Homo sapiens: one gene and its partners. The protein of the gene in region 3 interacts with the protein of the main gene of each other region in a biochemical or structural test. Each region holds a gene or a part of one and is shown on either strand. Other genes may lie near its edges.

The links.
Region 1: the proteins of UBE2I (region 3) and PIAS1 form a complex in vitro, tested with the Homo sapiens proteins (12 studies listed by BioGRID, with this or other methods).
Region 2: of the proteins of UBE2I (region 3) and SAE1, one has a biochemical effect on the other in vitro, tested with the Homo sapiens proteins (6 studies listed by BioGRID, with this or other methods).

Annotation. Positions count from the first base shown.
Region 1 is NC_000015.10:68,057,300-68,064,319, forward strand, and holds part of PIAS1 (E3 SUMO-protein ligase PIAS1), read left to right. Parts: intron 1-180; exon of another isoform or gene 181-230; coding exon of another isoform or gene 231-281; intron 282-7,020. UniProt on the Homo sapiens protein: Functions as an E3-type small ubiquitin-like modifier (SUMO) ligase, stabilizing the interaction between UBE2I and the substrate, and as a SUMO-tethering factor. Catalyzes sumoylation of various proteins, such as CEBPB, MRE11, MTA1, PTK2 and PML.
Region 2 is NC_000019.10:47,126,356-47,133,839, reverse strand, and holds the start of SAE1 (SUMO-activating enzyme subunit 1), read right to left. Parts: upstream 3,006-7,484; 5' UTR 2,910-3,005; coding exon 2,812-2,909; exon of another isoform or gene 2,728-2,811; intron 1-2,727. UniProt on the Homo sapiens protein: The heterodimer acts as an E1 ligase for SUMO1, SUMO2, SUMO3, and probably SUMO4. It mediates ATP-dependent activation of SUMO proteins followed by formation of a thioester bond between a SUMO protein and a conserved active site cysteine residue on UBA2/SAE2.
Region 3 is NC_000016.10:1,305,477-1,312,654, reverse strand, and holds the start of UBE2I (SUMO-conjugating enzyme UBC9), read right to left. Parts: upstream 3,020-7,178; 5' UTR 2,882-3,019; intron 309-2,881; exon of another isoform or gene 52-308; intron 1-51. UniProt on the Homo sapiens protein: Accepts the ubiquitin-like proteins SUMO1, SUMO2, SUMO3, SUMO4 and SUMO1P1/SUMO5 from the UBLE1A-UBLE1B E1 complex and catalyzes their covalent attachment to other proteins with the help of an E3 ligase such as RANBP2, CBX4 and ZNF451.

The sequences.
Region 1 (7,020 bases), on a different chromosome or scaffold from region 3:
ATGTGGAGGGTATTTTGTCATCTTTAGGAACTTAGAAGCAGGAGGGTGTGATGGCCAGATGATCTTGGTAGTTAATAAGCTGACAGCTTCATGAAACTCCTCTTAAAGTAATTTAAAAAAAAATATGTGTTTTTTTGGAGTAAAACTCAAACCAAGTTATAGTGCCATTTTAATTTACAGGAAGAAGAGTGGGAGAGAAGAAGTCCATCAGCATTTTAGTGGAGTAAATAATGAAATTAAATGGGAAGAGAAACCATAATTATAAAAGTTACTATGAGTGTGTCAGTGAATTCTATTGTTATTTTCTGCCTCTTTATTTTCAAGAAATAGCTACTTAATTTTGATCCTTACGCTGTAATTTGTCTGCTTTTATTTCAGATAGAGTCAAGTACATCTGATAGTTTATTCATGGATTTGATTTGAATCTCTATAACTTGCTTTTGTCAAGTGCCACATTTAGATGGCTTTTGTTTTATGTCATTATTTTTATCAACAGTATTTTAAAAACTCTACAGTATAGTTTATAAAATACTACGTATAGTTTCTAAGTATTTCATATGATTGTTTTGAAATACCTCCTTCTTTTCATCCACCGTTTTCTCCTGGGCGATCCCATTGTCTTTTTCTTCAAAGAGTTTCTTGTAATCCCTGTTGATTGCGGTAGTGCTTAGTGGCGAGTCCATAGCTGATTAACCTTGGGTGTCTCCTGGTGAACTCCATCAGCATGCTGCTCCAGGGTTCTTGCTGAGGCTTTTGAGTTTAGTGTAATTTGTACCCTTTTTTGCTGGTAACCAGGGATAAGAAAATAAAATGGCCAATGGTTGTAGCGGGAACTGGGAAAAAGTATCCAAGTCTCAGAAAAACTGGGTGTTTATGATGAGATGTAGCCTTTCAAAACAACAACCAAAAACGGATTCATTACTTCATAGAATTGATTGTGGTGTTTTCTGAAGTGTTTGACTCTGGCATGAAGCATCTTGCTTTTTTAATGTTTGAATAATAATATCTTACTTATATAGTACTTTGCAGTTCATAATATATTGCATTATCTCTTTTGATCTTTCCAACAGTTCTTTGAGGTAGGAAAGGCAAGTAATAACTAAATCCTTTTTATAGATAGAGAAAGTGAGCCCAGAAAGGGTACGTGACTATTGCAAGGTCATACAAATAAAAGTGGCAGGGACTTGAGCCTAGGTCTTGTGTAGTCCTCCTTAAAGGTCCTACAGCAGACCTGGAGTCCTCTAGGGTGCCCAGTTCACAGATTTCTACTTATGTTGTTGCTGATACTTTCCCTTTTGGAAAAGCTCTATGCTAGGGTATTTTTGGATATTCTAGGGCATTTTGCAAGCTTCCTTGCAAAAAGTTTGGAGTTTGTTAGTTGGAATCATACACATTAATTTTTGTAAGTATCATTTTGCTTGAGAAAATTTCAGAGAATCTGAGAAGTAAGCAGAAAAATAAACAGTACCTGTAATCCCAACACTCAGAGATATCATGGTTAACATCTGGGTATTTATCCACTTAAGACTTTCTCTCTGTGAGCATATGTATATGTATATTCATCATAAAAAGATACAACACTGTTTTTTATTTATAATCTGCTATTTTCATGTCTATCCAGGTTAGTAAATACAGGTCTATATGATCATTTGAAACCTTACATTGTGTTTTATTAAACTAGTCCCTGTCAGATTATTCTACTTTTTTTTTTTTTTTTTTTTTTGAGACGGAGTCTTCCTCTGTTGCCCAGGCAGTAGTGCAGTGGCGCGATCTCGGCGCACTGCAAGCTCCGCCTCCCGGGTTAACACCATTCTCCTGCCTCAGCCTTCGGTGTAGCTGGGACTACAGGTGCCCGCCACTACGCCCCGCTAATTTTTTTGTACGTTTTTAGTAGAGACGGCGTTTCACCGTGTTGGTCAGGATGGTCTCGATCTCCTGACCTTGTGATTTGCCCGTCTCGGCCTCCCAAAGTGCTGAGATTACAGGCGTGAGCCACCACCGCGCCAGGCCCAGATTATTCTCCTTTTTTTGCAGTGTGTTTGCAGACATGTACCAAAGTTTGCAGATGTTTTATTTTAACTAAATATATTGATATGACAGATCTTTTTTGTGCTTTAGAAAGCAATGCAGGACCGGATGCCATGGCTCACACCTGTAATACCAGCACCTTGGGAGGCTGAGGTGGGCGGATCACGAGGTCAGGAGTTGAAGACCAGCCTGACCAAGATAGTGAAACCCCGTCTCTACTAAAAATACAAAAAATTAGCTGGGCGTGGTGGTGGGCGCCTGTAATCTCAGCTACTCAGGAGGCTGAGGCAGGAGAATCGCTTGAACCTGGGAGGCAGAGGTTGCAGCGAGATTGCGCCACCGGACTCCAGCCTGGGCTACAGTGTGAGATTCCGTCTCAAACAAAAAAAAAAAAAAAAAAAAAGAAAGCAATACAAATGTTTATTTTATTTTTGTAGAGTCAGGGGTCTCACTGTGTTGCCCAGGCTGGTCTCAAATTCCTGGCCTCAAACAGTGCTGCCTCGGTTTCCCAAAGTGTTGGGATTACAGGTGTGAGACACTGTGCCTCTGTGCTCGGTTTTTACAGGTGTGAGGTACTGTGCCACTGCACCCACTCTACAAAATTAGCTAAAATGTTGTCAGTGAAATAAATTAGTCATTCTTGGTTTGTTCATTGTCATACCTTTATTGTTTATGTTTCTGTAATATGTGAGATAAGATTATTAAATGATGGCAGATACAGGTTTTACAAAATGTAAGCAAACATTACTTCAGCATCAGAATGTTTGATAAAGTATGAAATCGATTATGAAGTAGTATTTTATAATCTATTCATACTATTCTATGAATAGTAGAATTTCAAGTAGGCAAGTATGTTTGATTTTGGAAATTATATCACAGTGACCACATATTGCAAGTTTTTGTACCTTATTTAGATGCTTATCAGTTTTTTTTGTTTTGCTGGGATTACAGGTGTGAGCCACCACGCCCAGCTGATGCTTATCAGTTTTTAACTGGCATTTTAAAACTATATTGAACATTGCCAGACGTGGTAATCCCAGCACTTTGGGAGCCAAGGTGGACAGATCACGAGGTCAGGAGTTCGAGACCAGCCTGACCAACATGGTGAAACCCTATCTCTACTAAAAATACAAAAATTAGCCGGGCGTGGTGGTGCGCACCTGTAATCTCAGCTACTCAGGAGGCTGAGGCAGGAGAATTGCTTGAACCTGGGAGGCGGAGGTTACAGAGAGCTGAGACCGTGCCACTGTACTCCAGGCTGGGCGACAGAGTGAGACTCCGTCTCAAAAACAAACAAACAAAAAATCCCCCAAAAAACAAACACTATACTGAACATTAATATAGAGAAAATGGAAATAAGACTTTACCATATTTTTAATCTCAAAACAAAGTGTTGCCATTTAAATTGGGAGGTAACATAGTTTCAAGGATCCACAATCTCTGCCTCCGGGGTTCAGGCAATTCTCCTGCCTCAGCCTCCCGAGTAGCTGGGATTACAGGCATGCGCCACTGCGCCCAGCTAATTTTTGTATTTTTAGTAGAGACAGGGTTTCACCATGTTGGCCAGGTTGGTCTCTATCTCTTGACCTCGTAATCTGCCCGCCTTGGCCTCCCAAAGTTCTGGGATTGTAGGCGTGAGCCACCGTGCCTGGCCCAGGATCTGGTTTTAGAAAGATAACATAGGCAATGAAAGCATTTTTATTTTTAGAAAAAACCTTTATGAGTTAAACCAATTAATAAATGCATATGTGAATTAAGAATGCTATTTGTGCAACATCTGAAAAGTAGTGCATGTAGAAGGAACTTGAAATTGATCGTACTCTAAATTTGATTCGTTCGACTTTGGTCTTCACCTAAATCTGTATTTATGTAACGTTTTATCATTAGGATTTCTTTGAAATAGGCAGTAGAGACAATTTTAAAGTACTTAGTTGTCTTTAACCATCAATTTCAGAAGTAGTATTAATTGCCACTGCACTTTTTGCTAGATGTTTATGACTATATTTCCCCTTCCATGTTAAAAATTGTGCAACTCCTGTTACTTTTGATTCCCTCTACTCTTGGTTTCAGTAGTGTCACATGAAAAGAAAATTCCCTAGAACCCTTCCTTCAGAGTTTTCTGGTAAGTCTTCATTCTTAGCTATGAACTTCTAAAATTCGTCAAAATGAAGAAACCACCTTTTTATTTTTCAGCTTTTCTTTAGATCAAGCAAACAAAACAAACATAAATCCTTTGAATATTAACTAATGATGGAGATATCAGTAACTCTCATAGGACTGTTGTAAACGTTCCTATTTTTGAAAACTTAATCTCTTTTTTACCTTTTTTGCTATTCACTGCTTTCAGTTTACCCGCTTTGGTTGCCGGGTTAATTTCACCAAAACACTCCTTTCATTCTGTCACTCCTATCTATAAAAACTTTGAATGGCTTTCTATCGAAAACTGGATAAAGACTTAGTTCTCAGTCTAGTATTCAAGATTTTCTATTGTCTGGCCCCATTCCACTTTGTGTGTGTGTTTTGTCTCTTCAGCTGTATAGCAAAAGCCCTTAACTTAAAGCCAGAGCTGTTAGTTTGCGTCTTTTTGTTGGCTGGTGTTCTGTTTGTACACCCCCCATTCTCCCATCCCTACCCTGTGGACACAATAGGTGTTTTTAATATACATGTGTCAGATGAACAAATTATGTTTAAGATTTGTTTCTGTCAGAGACTGGGGCCTGATACTCTTGTCTATAAGACAATCTAAATTGAAAATATTTTTAGGGTCATATCTTCGCTCTTTTTTCTTGCTGCTGCTTAGATGAACTTGAATAACATTAAATCCAGAATAATTTATCAAGGGCTGTTTTAGATTTACCTTTTACATTATTTTAAGTTATAGAGATAATAAGTGACTACACTTCTCATTGTAATGATCTAACAGTAAATAGGGTAAAAATGGAAAGACCTCATCATCTTCATTCTTAGAGGGAATCATTTTGGTGTATATCTGTGTATTCTTATTTGGGTGGGCAGGGGGAGGTGACAGCTTTATTGAGATAAAATTAACATATCCCATTACAGTTCACCTCGTTAAAGTGCACAGTCAGGTAGTTTTTGGTATATTCACAAAGTTGTGTAACCATTAACCACAATCAGTTCTAGAATATTTTTTCACCTCGAAAAGCAACCCTACATCCTTTTAGCATCATCCCCTTCCCAAACCTTACCTCACTCTTAGCCCTAGGCGACTGATAATCTATTTTGAGTCTCTGTAGACTTGCCTATTTTGGGCATTTAATATAAATGGAATAAAAATATGTCACTTTTTGTGTCTGGTCTTGTATTCATTTTTTTCTCTGCATGGGCATTTAAATGTGTATGTCTGTATAATATTTTTAATTTATTGTGTGTGTGTATGTCTAGATGAGAACAAAACTAGGCACATAGAAGGAACTTAAGTGAATGTACATGTACATAAATATCTTTTCTAAAACTGTGAGACCATACCATATGTAGCATCCTACAGTTTGCTTTTTTTTACAATAGATAGTGAAGATCTTTCCATGACATGTCCAGACAATGAGATGGTCTCATTCTTTTTAACAGTGTGTAATATTTCCTATGTATGTTTATAGAGATTTACCTCTTGAATTTATCAGTGTATATGGTTAAAAGTTCTTAACAACTTGTTTTGATGGTTTTGCTATACACTACTGGTTTTTTTAAAAAAATAATTGCCACATTTAATGTAACCTCTGTAGTATTAATGCTGGAGTTTCACTTAACAATAGGAATGAAAACATCACAGGTAAGGGTTGTATAGCTTGAGGAGAAATGGAATGCAGGGTCTTTATGCAGTTCTGGCAGTGCTCAGCCAAAGCAATTCATTTTGTATTTGGGTTTCTGAATGTGAGCAAGCCTGTTTTTAAAAAAGCTCATGGCATAGTGCTTAAAATAGAACTTAACATGCTATCTTGTGCTTTATGGTGAATTTTAAGACTTTTTCTTGCAGTCATGCAAGTCTAATCTTAAAGATTGGAAAGATTTCAGAGTAAATATTTTTTCTCATATGTTAAAATCATCATTCTGGTCTATGGGCTTCTGTAAGTTACCCAAGAAGGGGACTGAAGAGGCACAGAACTGGCTCAGAAACTGGCTTATAGTAGATTCTCAGTAATTGTTATTTATTAAAGAATTATTTATCACATTCTGTTATTTATTATATTTTTGGGTATCTGCTGTGTATGAGGTACCAGGTTATTGGTGATTTTAATATATTATCACATATGTGTGTATATTTATTTAAATATTTCTGTTATAGCGGAATGTTTACTAAAAATTATCTTTTTAAAAATTATACAAGTAATGCATCAGTTCTTACAGAGGTTTTCAAAGTCTATTTCTCAGGCCTCTGGTGGTTCCCCGAAGTTTTTCTGAGGGTTCTCCAGGTCAAAATGATTTTCCTAATAATAGGCATTATTTACGTGCTGACATTTGCAAAATCAGTGGTGGGTAAAACTGCCAGCACCTTGGCACAAATTAAGGCATTGGTACTAAATTGTACTAGTAGTTGTGTTCTTCATCACTGTGCACTTGGAATTAAAAAAAAAAATGCCAGTTAAACTTTATGTCCTTGATGAAGCAATAAAACTTACTAATTTTATTGTATCTCAATCCTTGAGTACATTTAAAAATATATTTTGTATGATGAAATGAAAAGTACCTGTAAAACACTTTTATTGAATATCAAATCTGATGGTTAACTCAAGGAAAAGAACTTGTGCAGTTGAGTTGTGAGCTTTTTAAATGGAATACCATTTTTACTTGAAAAAATGGCTGGCAAAGTATGGTTATACAGACTAGGGTATTTGGCATACATTTTCATGAAAATAAACAAAGTGTGCCTGTCACTACAGGGAAAACAACTGACAATATTTGTTACTAATGATAAAATTTAAGCTTTCAAATGAAAATAGAACTTTGGAAGACATGTATTTGCCACTGTGAGCT
Region 2 (7,484 bases), on a different chromosome or scaffold from region 3:
AAAAGAGAACTGACTCTTCCCCGACCCCACCAAACCTACAGCTCTCCATATCTTTCAAAATGGCAATTCCATCGTTCCAGGTAGGTGCTCAAGCCAAAAACAGTGGTGTCATCCTGGACTTCTGCCCCAAATTCTGTTCCCTCTTCTACCTTCAAAATATATCCAGAATATATTTATTTGACCCCTTCTCTTGAGTTTCAAGCCACCAATATTTTTATCTCAACTGGATTACTGCAACAGTCCAGCCAGAATCTTTACTTCCATTTCTGACCACTTTAACCTATTCTGGAGCGATCATTTTAAAACACAAACCAGGCCAGGCCGCAGTGGCTCACGCCTGTAATCACAGCACTTTGGGAGCCCAAGGCAGGCGGATCACGAGGTCAGGAGATCGAGACTATCCTGTCTAACATGGTGAAACCCCGTCTCTACTAAAAATACTCAAGATTAGCCGGGTGTTGTGGCACATGCCGATAGTCCCAGCTACTCAGGAAGGTGAGGCAGGAGAATCGCTTGAACCTGGGAGGCGGATTCACTGCAATGGCAGTGAGCCGAGATCGTGCCATTGCACTCCAGCCTGGGCCACAGAGCAAGACTCCGTCTCAAAAAACAAACAAAAAACAGATCATGTTACTCCCACACTCAAAACACTCCAACAGGTTTTCCCACACACTTAGAATAAAAGCTACTCCTCAAATCATTTGGTTCCTGCCACCTTATTTCTCTAATTTGACAATCATGCCTGGGCCTCTGGGAATTTGCACTTGCTGTTCTCTTAGCTAGGAAAGTTCTCCCAGATGACCACAGGGCTCTTTCCCATATAAGTCTGAGGCTCAATGTTACCTCTTCAGAGCCCTTCCCTGGCCAACCTATCAAAACAACCCTCTCACTTCACCATCCTTTAATAACTGACACATATACACACGCTTGTGGATTTTTTTTTTTTTTTTGAGACGGGGCCTCACTCTGTCACCCAGGCTGGGGTGTAGTGGTGTGATCATGGCTCACTGCAACCTCCACCTCCCAGGGGCTCAGGTGATGCTCCCACCTCAGTCTCCTGACAAGCTGGGACTATAAACTTATGTCACCATGCCTGGCTAATTTTTGTATTTTTTTGTAGAGACTGGGTTTGGCAACATTACCCAGGCTAGTCTCAAACTCCTGGGCTCAAGAGGTCCCCTCCCCCCAACTCAGCTTCCCAAAGTGCTGGGATTACAGGTGTGAGTCACTGCGTCCAGGCTAAGTAAAAATATTGATCAATGAGGCCAGGCATGGTAGCTCATGCCTGTAATCCCAGCATTTTAGGAGTCTGAGATGGGGGGAGATCTCTTGAGGCCGAGGATCGCTTGAGCTTGGGAGTTCAAGACCAGTCTGGGCAACATGGCAAAACCCCATCCTACAAAAAAAAAAAAAAACAAAAATTAGTCGGATGATGTGGTGGGGCACGCCTGTAGTCCCAGCTACTTGGGAGGCTGAAGAGGGAATATCCCTTGAGCCTTGGAGGTTGAGGCTACAGTGAGCTGTGATCCCACCACTGCACTCCACTGGGCCACAGAGAAAGAAAAAAAAAAAAAACAAGCTGGGCACAGTGGCTCACGTCTGTAATCCAACCACTTTGGGAGGCTGTGGCGGGCAGATCACTTGAGGTCCGGAGTTTGAGACCAGCCTGGCCAACATGGTGAAAACCCATGTCTACTAAAAATACAAAAATTAGCCAGGCATGGTGGCGCGAGCCTGTAATCCCAGCTACTCAGAAGACTGAGGTGAGAGGAAGTCTTGAACCCGGGAGGCCAGAGGCTGCAGTGAACCGAGGTCACCCAACTGCACAAAACAAAAGACGTCCTGGCGCGGTGGCTCACTCCTGTAATCCCAGCACTTCAGGAGGCCGAGGCGGGTGGATCACTTGAGGTAAGGAGATCGAGACCAGTCTCGTCAATATGGCGAAACCCCGTGTCTACTAAAAATACAAAAATTAGCCGGGCGTGCTGGCGGGCCCCTATAATCCCAGCTACTCGGGAGGCTGAGTTAGGAGAATCGCTTGAATCCGGGAGGCAGAGGTTGCAGTGAGCCGAGATCGCGCCACTGCCCTCCAGCCTGGGCGACAGAGAGAGACTATCTCAAAAAAAAAAAAAAAAAAAAAAAGAATTCCCTAAGCTACTCCACAATGCCCAAACTACGTCTCCTGTCCTATCAAGACACAGCCCCATACCAAACACAAGCAACCTTTTCGGGAGCCTACGGCCGTCCCCCTCCAGCCTCTCCGAGCCTCTCAAGATTCCCATTTGAGATAACTTGCTCCAAAACTCCTCAAAACCCGCATTCTCTCAGACTGGCCCGCCCGTGAGCTCCCACAAGAGTGTAAGCTCCCGTCTGTCCGGTTGGCCAGTCCAGTCTCCCCTGTGTGCAGCACGGAACCAGGTCCCATACCCTCGAATGAATGAACTGCGTCCCTCACCTCACCCTTTCCACGTATCCCCAGCCCCTCTTATCCCCTAACCGCGATCAAACCCCACAATCACCGCTTTCGGGCCTCGGATTTCCTGAGTTTGAATTCTCCCGCTCTCTCAGGACTCCCCAACGCCCCCTTCAGAGCTCCCATCCTTCGGAACGGCCCTCCCAACCACTTCCCAGACCTTCCAGAAACATCCCCAATCAACTCCTCCAGTCCCCCCAAGAGAGAGACGATCCCAGAGCACAGAATTCCCGCCTCCTCCCTTCAAATCACACCTTCCCGCTCCTTCCGGGCCGCAAACGCCTCAGAATAGACGCCCCCTCCAGACCCTAGCGGCCTCAAGCCGCGCCGGCCCTGACCGTTTCTGGGCCTCCAGTCCCCACAGGCGGATCTGCCGGTCATACTGTGCCGCCTCCTCCTCGCTAATGCCGCCGCCAGCCTCCTCCTTCTCCACCATGGCGCCGGCTCTTCCTGCCTCAGCTCCGGTCCCGCTCAAGCCAACCGCCCGCCGGACCCGCGCGCCACCTACCGCCGCCGGCAGCACGCCCGGAGTGCTTCTGCGCATGCGCAGACCCTCCCACGCCTGCGCAGTACCTCGTCCGCGGAGCCTGGGACCAAAAGTACCTCACGAGACTCAAAGGCGATCCGGCGACTGCATGTCACGTGACGGAGGGTCCAACCAATCCTAGCCCCAAAAATGGCGCGGCTTAAGGCCCCGAGGGCGTTGCCCACGTGGTCACTTATGTGGCACTTAAATTCTGCAAATATTTAAGGAGTGCATACTGAGATCCCAGCAATAGGGATGTTGTAAAATAACGGTATTGAGTGAAATCGACAAAGCCCTGTCCTCATGGAGTTTACGATCCAGTGAGAAAAGCCCGAAGAGAAATAAATATAAACCCAGCGATGATAAATGCTTTGGAGAAAAATAAAGCAGGACATGGGGCTACAGAGTAACAGGGGTGGTCAGGGAAGGCTTATCAGAGGTGACATTGAACTGTCAATTTTTTTTTTTTTTTTTCATAGAGATGGGGTCCCTCTGTTGCCTAGGCTGGTCTCCAACTCCTGGCCTCAAGCCATCCTCCCGCCTCTGCCTCCCAAAGTGCTGGGATTACAACCATGAGCCACTGTGCCCAGCCTTTCATGTCCCTACTATGTGTTGCACTTTGTGCCCAGCCCTGGACATACAATAATAATAAAAATGAACACATCTCTGCCTTAGAGGCAGTCACGGCCCAGTGGGAGAGAGGAGCGTTAAGAAAACAGGAATAGGCCAGGCACGGTGACTCGCACCTGTAATCTCAGCACTTCGGAAGGCCAAGGCAGGCAGATTACTTTAAATCAGGAGTTGGAGACCAGCCTGGCTAATGTGGTGAAATCCCGTCTTTAGTAAAAATAAAAAAATTAGCAGGGCATGGTGGCTCACACTTGTAGTCCCAGCTACTTGGAAGGCTGAGGTAGGATAATTGCTTGAATCCGGGAGGCGGAGGTTGTAGTAAGCCAAGATCATGCCTCTGCACTCCAACCTGGGTAACAGAGCAAGACTCTGTAAAAAAAAAAAAAAAAGAAAGAAAGAAAGAAAGGAAGGAAGGAGGGAGGGAAAGAGAGAGGGAAAGGAAGGAAGGAAGGGAAAAAAAAAAAAAACCAGGGATGGCCCCAGGTGGTCAATATAGGGAAACGCTATCTCTATTAAAAATACAAAAATTAGCTTGGTGTGGTGGTACTGAGTCTATAGTCCCAGCTACGTGGGAGGCTGAGGTGGAAGGATTTCTGATGTTAGAATCATAGGCTTTTTGGCAGGGCACAGTGGCTCATGCCTGTAATCCCAGCACTTTGGGACGCCAGGGAGGGCAGATCACGAAGTCAGGAGTTCGAGACCAGCCCGGCCAAGATGGTGAAACCCCCATCTCTACTAATACTAAAAAATTAGCCGGGCGTGGTGGCACACGCCTGTAGTCTCAGCCAATTGGGAGGCTGAGGCCGGAGAATCGCTTGAACCTGGGAGGCAGAGGTTGCAGTGAGCCAAGATCCTGCCACTGCACTCCAGCATGGATGACAGAGACTCCCGTCTAAAAAAAAAAAAAAAAAAGCCACCATGCCCACCTAACTTTTGTATTTTTAGTAGAGACAGGGATTGCACCATGTTGGCCAGGCTGGTCTCGAACTCCTGAACTTGTGATCCACCCGCCTCGGCCTCCCAAAGTGCACGGATTACAGGTGTGAGCCACCATGCCTGGCGGAATCATAGATTTTTATTTAAGAATTGCTTAGGCCGGAGGTGGTGGCTCACGCCTGTAATCCCAGCATTTTGGGAGGCAGAGGTGGGCGGATCACGAGGTCAGGAGTTCGAGATCAGCCTGGCTAACATGGTGAAACCTTGTCTCTACTAAAACTACAAAAAATTAGCCGGGCGTGGTGGCAGGCGCATGTAGTCCCAGCTACTGAGGAGGCTGAGGCAAGAGAATAGCATGAACCTGGGAGATGGAGCTTGCAGTGAGCCGAGTTCGCGCCACTGCACTCCAGCCTGGGCAACAGAGCAAGACTCCGTCTCAGAAAAAAATAAATAAATAAATAAATAAATAAATAATAAGAATTGCTTAGCGCCCGGCATGGTGGCTCATGCCTGTAATCCATGCGCTTTAGGAGACTGAGATAGGAAAATCACTTGAAGTCAGGAGTTCATGACCAGCCTGGGCAACATGACAAGACCCCTGTCTCTACAAAAAAAAAAATTTTTTAATTAGCTGGGTGTGGTGGTGCGTGCCTGTAATCCCAGCTACTTGGGAGGCTAAGGTGGAAGGATCCTTTGAGCCCAGGCGTTAGAGGCTGCAATGAGCTATGATGGCACCACTGCACTCCAGCCTGGACAACAGACCTTGTCTCAAAAAAAAAAAAAAAAAAAAAAAAGCTTAAGATATTTTTCAGATCCTGAATTCCAGCAAAACAGCTGATACCAACCAGTGTGAAGACCCCGCAGAGGAACCAAATCGACAGGAGAATAGAGTTTCTTCAACTCCCTGTTTCATTACTTCACCCTGCACACTTCAACCAACCAATGACCTCCACACTTCAACCCACTCCAAAACCCTTAAAAAGCCCCGAACTCCCTGGGGAAGTGGATTCGTGGTTCCTTCCATCTCCTCTCTTGGTTTTCAGTGGCCCCTATGATTAAACCTCTTTCTCTGCTGCAACCTGGGGTCTCCTACTATTGACTTGCTGCAAGCATTGGGGGGAAGGACCTATTATGATGGAAAAGCTTTCAATAGGCCAGGCACTGTGGCTCATGTCTGTAATCCCAACACTTTGAGAGGATCACTTGAGGCCAGGAGTTTGAGGCTGTCAAACACAGCCAGACCCCGTCTCTACAAAAAAATATAAAAATTAGGCCGGGCACAGTGACTCATACCTGTAATCCCAGCACTTTGGGAGGCATGGACGGGAGGATCACCTGAGGTCAGGAGTTAGAGACCAGCCTGGCCAACATGGTGAAACCCCATCTCTACTCAAAATACAAAAATTAGCCGAGTGTGGTGGTGTGCGCCTGTGATCCCAGCTACCCAGGAGGCTGAAGGCGGAGAATCACTTGAACCCGGGAGGTGGAGTTTGTAGTGAGTGGAGATCTTGCCATTGCACTCTAGCCTGGGCAACAGAGCGAGACTCTGTCACAAAAATAAATAAATAAATAAAATAAAGATTAAAAATTAAAGTTCTGATTCCAAAGTTTTTTGCACTTTGGTGTGCCACTTCCTAATCTCCGGGGAAAATGCCAGTTACAAGATCAAATAACCACTTTGTGCAGGAAACGACATTTAGAATTCAGAGAATGACCCAGCTGCAAAGGGCTGTGTCAAGTATCTTTTAGATAAGCCTCTGAAAATAAAGTGCTGTTTAGTTGCCTTATATTATTAAAGGAAAATGTACATGGATTATAGAAAGAAAAATAGAGGCCAGGCACGGTGGCTCATGCCTGTAATACCAGCACTTTGGGAGGCCGAGGCGGGCGGATCACCTGAGGTCGGGAGTTCGAGACCATCCTGACCAAAGTGGAGAAACCCCATCTCTACTAAAAATACAAAATTTTAGGCATGGTGCCGCATGCCTGTAATCCCAGCTACTTGGGAGGCTGAGGCAGGAGAATCGCTTGAACCTGAGAGGTGGAGGTTGCAGTGATCCGAGATTGTGCCATTGCACTCCAGCCTGGGCAACAAGAGCAAAACTCTGTCTCAAAAGAAAGAAAGAAAGTAATCCTGGGCTGGGCGCGGTGGCTCACGCCTGTAATCCCAGGACTTTGGGAGGTCAAGGTGGGTGGATCACAAGGTCAGGAGTTCGAGACCAGCCTGGCCAATATGGTGAAACCCGGTCTCTACTAAAAATACAAAAAAATTAGCCAGGCGTGGTGGCACATGCCTGTAATCCCAGCTACTCGGGAGGCTGAGGCAGGAGAATTGCTTGAATCCGGGAGGCAGAGGTTGCAGTGAGCTGAGATCGCGCCACTGCACCCCGGTCTGGGTGACAGAGCGAGACTCTGTCTCAAAAAAAAAAACAAAAACAAAACAAAAAAGAAAGTAATCCTGAAGGTCCATGGCATATAGTAATTCGTAATTGGTTAGGGAGTGACCCAGTGACCCAGGTTCTTACCTGTGACTATGCCATAACTCTTGTAAAATGATCACTTTGTTGGCCAGGCGCGGTGGCTCACGCGTGTAATCCCAGCACTTTGGGAGGCAGAGGCGGGCGGATCATGAGGTCAGGAGATCGAGACCATCCTGGCTAACACGGTGAAACCCCGTGTCTACTAAAAATACAAAAAATTAGCTGGGCATGGTGGCGGGTGCCTGTAGTCCCAGCTACTCGGGAGGCTGAGGCAGGAAAATGGTATGAACCCAGGAGGCAGAGCTTGCACTGAGCCAAGATAGCGCCACTGCACTCCGGCCTGGGCAAAAGAGCGAGACTCCGTCTCAACAAAAAAAAAAGAAAAGAAAAAGAGCCCTGAAAATAAAGCTAATTGCTGCATAAATTATTTTCTCCTGTA
Region 3 (7,178 bases):
AAAGGGGCCAGGTCAGCAGCTCCACCTGCGTCGGAGCCGCCGCAGCCTCACCTGGCACTCGTTAGGGAGACAAGGCCCAGTCCCCGGCAGACCCACGGACGAAGGAGCTCTGAGAGGCCCGCACTCAGGTTCTGGGTGGCACGATGACTTCCCCAGTCAGCAGAGCAGAAATCGGGGGTGGGGTTGGGATCAAAGAAGCCAAGGCAGGTCCAGTGTCGCCAGGGCACCAGGCTTCTGAAGCTGCTAGAGCCGCCTGCCCTGCAGGTGAATTTGGCTCCTTTTCACCAAACACAGATCCTCAGGGCAGCCTGAGAAAAAGCAGGCGAAGGAACCTGGGTCCTCCAGTCAGCAGGCGCTGGCGTCACAGCGAGAGGGTGACAGGGGCCAGCCGGGCACTGGCCTCCAGGTCCACGACTAAGTCCAAGACAGGCAGCCCGGGCTGGAGGCAGCCCCAGACCGGGCCCCACCGGGATGTCCTTCCCCACGCCCTCCTCACATGATGCAGAGGAGCCCGCAGGCCGCCCGCCCTCTGGACCGTTTGCCCTTCCCCGTGCCCTCCTCTAAGTGAGGGGGGGGGAGCCAGGGGCCAGACAGGGAGAAAGTGGGGGGCACAGCTATGGTCAGGCAGGGTTCGAGCCCAGAGCGGAGTGGAGCGCCCGCCAACCACGGTTTCAAGGCTGTCTCCGCACTGGGCTGGACTCCGAAACTCCACACGTTCCTCCACCCTCCACTCCCACGTGGAGCAGCCCAGCTGCGACTTGAGGACTCACAGCTCTCGCTTCCCCAGCCCCAGGATGGGCTTCCTGAGTGGCCGCAGCCTGTGCCCGGTGCGGTGCAAAGCAGCCTGGCGAGTGGCCATTTCAAGGAGGCACGACCTCCCAGGTGCCCGGGGTCTGAGCGAGGCCAGGCATCAGGCAAGTCTCTGAAGCCTCAGGCCAGTGCTCCAGACACTGAAGGACCATGGGCAAGGCTATCCTCACAGCCAGGCAAGGCCAGGCCACAGAGAGGCCAGACGGGCCTGGGACCCTGCCACAGGCAGCCCTCCTGCTGAGGACTGGACAGAGCCGCCTAGAGGCCCCCGTCCCAGCACCTAGCTATTGCTGTCTCAGGTGTGAGAAGTCGTGAGGGGTGGTCCTGCGAGACCTCCTGCCAAGACCTGGCTGCTGCTGCTGTGTCCCCTGCCCCAAAGCACTCAGCACCACGGGGTGGTCTCACAGGCACTGCACCGCCAGGGCAAGGAGCCACAGGTGCACACCCACCGTGTCCCAGACAGAAGCCAGGCCCCTCCCCCTGCACCCCCTCCTACTGGCCTTCTGGAGAAAGCGGCCAATCTGTTACAATGTAATCACAACACAGATCAAGCGTTCAAAATTCCGCTGAAAATCGAATTTGCCCTTCCAAATTCACAGATAGGCACTTAGTGAACGGCTAGTAGTTACTAAACGCTTCAGAGCAAGAAACTTTTATGATGCAAAGACAAAAACAACCCTCATCTATTAGAGCCAGGCAAGGCCCAGACACTGCAGAAACGGGGACAGGGCCGGGCACTCCAGGAGCGGCCCGAAAGTCTGCCTTCTGTCCTCCTGCTGGGCGCCCGCAACCGGCTGAGCTTTAGCTTCTCGGATCACCGCCTTGCTCTGCTGGTTGACAGCACCGACTTCAGAGCAACTTCCTGGCTGAGGGTGAGCAAAGCACTCACCTCCCACAACTCCACCGCACTGATCTCCACAACGGGTGGTCGCCACGACAGGCTGGCACAAGAAGCCTTTAAAGGCCCTCCTGCACCCAAATGCAAACTCTCCCAGGCTTGGGGAGGTATTCCCTTCTGCAAGACCCAAGCACCTGCAGTCGGGAGACGCTTACCTGGCCGCACCTGATCTGCCCCAGGCCCCGAGAATGTTTCTGAAGCAAGATCCCAAACCCTGAGACACCATACAAGCGCACACCAGCAATCACCCAGTGGCCTAGGGAACGGACCTCTCTGAATGAGCAATCAGGGCAAACTGAGGATCCGTCCCGTCTTCCGTTGCATAGGTTCTCTACCCAAAGGCAACGTTTCTTGAAGAGCAAGAAACACTTGGGGTAGGTCCTGTAAAAGGAAACAAACCGAACTCCCCAAAGACAGGCACTTTGCAAACAGAGAAACTAAGCGTAACTTCCAATTATACAAACAAAACCACTTCATTCTGCGATTCAAGCGTGACTACAGGCCACGATCACAAGCCCAACTAATCATTCCCTTACATTCCTCCTACGCACGTTAACTACCAGAACCAACTACTATTCAACCGATAAAAAGAGATGTCCAAAACAGAATAAAACTCCCCCTCCAGCGAGGCGCTCACGTTCAGGGCCCCAGCAAGCGCCAGCGGAGCATCTTCAGAGGCACAAGAAAACTTACACTTGTTTTGGTTTTAAGGCACCGAAAACAAGCCCGCTCGCCGGCCCCCACCCCCGCGAGCCAGCGATGTTGCAATCCAAGACTCTCCCCCCGCGGCCCATCCTATCCGTCCGCGGGGCGACCGTGACCCCGGAAGCCGCTCCCCGCGCAGGAGGAAGGCGCGGCCTCGCGGGGCCCCGGCTGCAGGTGGCTGCCCCGGCCCCGCGCCAGGCGCACCTCGGGGGCGAAGTGGGGGAGCCCCGGCCCCGAAGGCCTGCGGCGGCCCGGCCGCTCGGGCCGCAGCCCAGCGGCGCCAGCAGCGCGGACCGAGCCGGCGCCGAGCGCGGGGCCTCTCGGGCTCCCCGGAAAGCTCGGCCGCGGCGCGGGGCCCGGCTCGGCGGGGCGGGGCGCGGGGCAGTCGGGGGCCCGGGCCCAACAGGAGTAGAGGCCTCGGCCCGACCCCCGCCCCGCGGCCCCGGCCCGGCCCCCGCACGCGCTCACCTCGGGCGGCCGCAGCCCCGGCGAGCGTAGCGGACAGGTGGAGGACCGAGCGGGGCGGCGGCGGCGGCGCTTCCCTTTGTCTCGGGACTTCCCTCCGGAGCCCGCTCCGCGCGCAGCCAGAGCAGCTCCGAGGACCCTGGCGCGGGCGGGGCGCGCGGGGCGGGGCCTAACGCGGGGCTGCCCTCTGCACGCCTGCCTCGCGCGCCGCTCCTGCCGCCCGGCCCCGAGCGCCTCCCGCGCCGCCGAGCGCTCCCCGTTGCCCGCGCCCCGCCGCCGCGCGCCCGCGCCCCGGGTCCGCCCCAGGAGCCCGGCCGGGGGGCGACTTTCCAGTCAGGCGGCGCCCTGGACACCTACGCCCTTAAAGGAGCCGCGTCCCCGATGTGAGGGAGCGTCTGTAAACTCCCCTTCGGGCTGCCCGCGTCCACCCGAGGACACGCCGGCAAGCAGCGGGGGAAAAAGGAAGCCGAGATCTCCAAAGGCTCCCCGGATGCCTGGCGGTCACCTCTCCAGCCACAGGTCCCGGAGGTTTCCTTGGGGTCAGGTCCTGGGGCCGGGGGTCAAAGACCACTGAGGCCTAAGGATCCTCTGAAGCGTCGCAGGACGGTGACGCTCCCGCGAGTTCAGCGCCCTGTGAAACCCCTTGCAATTGGCCAGTTCGGGGCGGTAGGCGGGGACACCTTCTCATCCGCCCAATGAGCTGACCCCGTACAAAAGGCCGAATGCGAGCATGACCGACGGGAGGAGAAGTGTGGATGCTCCCTAAACCGGGGGCTGGCCCTGGGCCGGGGCGCGGGCGGGACGTGGGGGACCGCGAGCGGCGGGGGCGGGGCGAGCCCGTGGGGGAGGGGCGCTTCCGGTCCCCCCTCCCGCCCACGCAACAAGCAGGACCGGGTCGGGAGGCCCCCAGACCCGCGAGCGCGCGGGACAGTCCGTTCGCCAACGCGCGACCGTGCTGGCCCCCGGGCTCTCCCGGCCCCCCCGCCCGCATTTCGCCGACGGCGGGGCCGCAGCCAAGGTCACGGTGTCCGGGTGCTTGGGGACCGCGGGGAGTGACCACATTCATTCATTCCCTCCCTCACTCATTCATTCATTCCCTCCCCTACTCCGTCATTCCCTCCCTCACTCACTAATTCCCTCCCTCCCTCACTAATTCCCTCCCTCCCTCATTCATTCGATCCCTCCATCACTCAATCATTCCTTCCCTCTCTCACGCATTCCCTCCCTCACTTACTCATTCATTGCCACCCTCACTCACTCATTCCCTCCCTCACTTACTCATTCATTCCCACTCACTCATTCCCTCCCTCACTCACTCATTCCCTCCCTCACTCATTCCCTCCCTCACTCACTCATTCCCTCCCTCACTCATTCCCTCCCTCACTCATTCATTCCCTCCCTCACTCACTCATTCTCACTCTCACTCATTCCCGCCCTCATTCATTCATTCCCGCCCTCATTCATTCATTCCCACCCTCATTCATTCCTTCCCTCCCTCACTCATTCCCTCTCTCATTCATTCCCTCCCTCCCTCACTCACTCATTCCCTCCCTCACTGATTCCCTCCCTCACTGATTCATTCATTCCCTCCATCACTCATTCATTCCTTCCCTCACTCATTCCCTCCCTCACTCATTTCCTCTCTCATTCATTCATTCCCTCCCTCCCTCACTCATTCCCACTCTCACAAACTCATTCCCTCCCTCACTTACTCATTCCTCCCTCATTCATTCCCTCCCTCATTCGTTCATTCCCTCCCTCATTCATTCATTCCCTCCCTCCCTCATTCCCTCCCTCCCTCATTCATTCATTCCCTCCCTCATTCATTCATTCCCTCCCTCATTCATTCCCACCCTCCCTCATTCATTCCCTGCCTCCCTCACTCATTCCCTCCCTCACTCATTCATTCCCTCCCTCCCTCACTGATTCTCTCCCTTATTCATTCCATCCCTCACTCATTCCCTTCCTCCCTCATTCACTTCCTCCCTCACTCATTCATTCACTCCCTCCCTCATTCATTCATTCCCTCCCTCCCTCACTCATTCCCTCCCTTACTCATTTATTCCATCCCTCACTCATTGCCTCCCTCCCTCATTCCCTCCCTCTCTCCCTCATTCATTCATTCCCTCCCTCATTCATTCCCTCCCTCACTCATTCCCTCCCTCACTCATTCATTCCCTCCCTCACTCATTCCCTTCCTCCCTCATTCATTCATTCCCTCCCTCACTCATGCATTAATTCCCTCCCTCACTCACTCATTCCCTCCTTCACTCATTCACTCCCTCCCTCCCTCACTCATTCCCCCACCACCTCCCACAGGGTCCCCAGCGGGCATTTCCCTGTCAGGCACCTGCAGCAGGAGGGGCAGCCACACACCCTGGGTCTGCCTGCCTGGGAGGCGCAGCCGTGGGGATGTGGGTCCAGGGCAGCAGGGGCAGCCTCCCCCAGAATCCAGTCCCTGGAAGCCATGCACAGCCCTGTCCCACCAAGACCAGCGGGGGCCTGGCCTGGCTGCAACTCCCAGGCTCAGAGCCTCCGTGGCCTGTCTAGACACCTGCTGTCCTGGCCCCCAGCCTTGAGGTCCTGGGAATCTGCTTTTTTTTTTTCCTTTTTTTTGTGAGATGGAGTCTCACTGTGTTGCCCAGGCTAGAGTGCAGTGGCGCCATCTTGGCTTACTGCAACCTCCACCTCCTGAGTTCAAGCGATCCTCCTGCCTCAGCCTCCCGAGTAGCTGGGATTACAGGCGTGCACCACCACACCCGGCTAATTTTTGTATTTTTAATAGAGACGGGGTTTCACCATGTTGGCTAGGCTGGTCTCAAACTCCTGACTTCAAGTGATCCGCCCACCTCGGCCTCCCAAAGTGCTGGGATTACAGGTGTGGACCACCACGCCCAGCTGAAATCTGCATTCTTAACCAGCCCCCTGGGCAAGCCTGGCAGAGGGATATGGCCCTTTGGCTTCCTGACATGGGCTAAGGTTCCAACGCCATCTTTCTGGCGAAGATGCCAGCACAGGGCTGTGTGGGGAGGCGTCAGCCAGTAAAAGCCGTGGCTGAAGAAAAGCAAGACAGCCACGGGCCTCGGTGGATCCCGCTGCAGCCTCAGGCACAGAGAGGGCAGGGCTGGTGAGGTGGGGGGCTTGTCATGAGTGGGGCTTGGGGAGACTGACTGGATGTGGTGTGTGGCTGGGGAGGGCCTGGGCCTGAACCTGTGGGCCATGGGAGCCATAGAAGGTTGTGGAACAGGAGAAGTAAGACAAGGCCCTGGTTCCCTGTGTGTGTGTGGTGAGGGACTGAGGAGACATGGCTCAGGCATCTAGAGAATTCCTGTCCTGGTGGGAAGTAGTGCCAGGAGGGGCTGGGGTTTGGGGAGGCTGTGGCAGGTGAGGGTGAGGGACATGGAGCAGGTAGGGGTGAGGGTCATGGAGCAGGTGGGGGTGAGGGGCATGGAGCAGGTGGGGGAGGGAAGAGGCTCCCTCAGTTGTGCATCCTCAGCCCACAAGTGTCCTTTGAGCAGCCTGCACCTGGCACACGTTTTCAAGGAGAGGGGACTTGTTGGGTCCAGCTCCCTGGGTACAAAGGAGAAACTGAGGCTTGGAGAGGGTGGGGGGTTTGAATCAGTAACTATAAGATCCTGGGCAAGGCTTGTGGCTGACTGTGCCAGGCACGCGCCCACCTTTGCCCTGGTCCCCTTGGGAGGGGAGCAGGAAGTGTGATGCAGAGCTGCCTGCGGTAGGGCGGGACCTCCAGTGCCCTGGGTGCCCCCTCCGGGGCCTGCTGGGGCCAGGCTCTGCACAGGGGTTTGAGAGCAGAGGCCTCTTCACTGAGGGCCGATTCCCCCAGAGGAATAAGGGCCTCTGCAGTAGAGTGAAGGTGGACCCTTACCCCGGAGCACGCACAAAAACCAGCTCAAAAGTCAGCCTCGGGCCAGGCGCGGTGGCTCACGCTGGTAATCCCAGGACTTTGGGAGGCTGAGTAGGGCAGATCGCTTGAGCTCAGGAGTTTGAGACCAGCCTGCCCAACATGGTGAAACCCTGTCTCTACTAAAAATGCAAAAATTAGTTGGGTGTGGTGGTGCACGCCTGTAATTCCAGCTACTTCGAAGGCTGAGGCAGGAGAATCTCCTGAACACGGGAGGCAGAGGTTGCAGTGAGCCGAGATGGCGTCACTGCACTCCAGCTTGGGCAACAGAACGAGACTTCATTTAAAAATAAAAAGAAAAAAAAATTCACATATCTGAGAAGGAGTTATTATCCAGGATAATAGGCTGGGCGCGGTGGCTCACGCCTGTAATCCCAG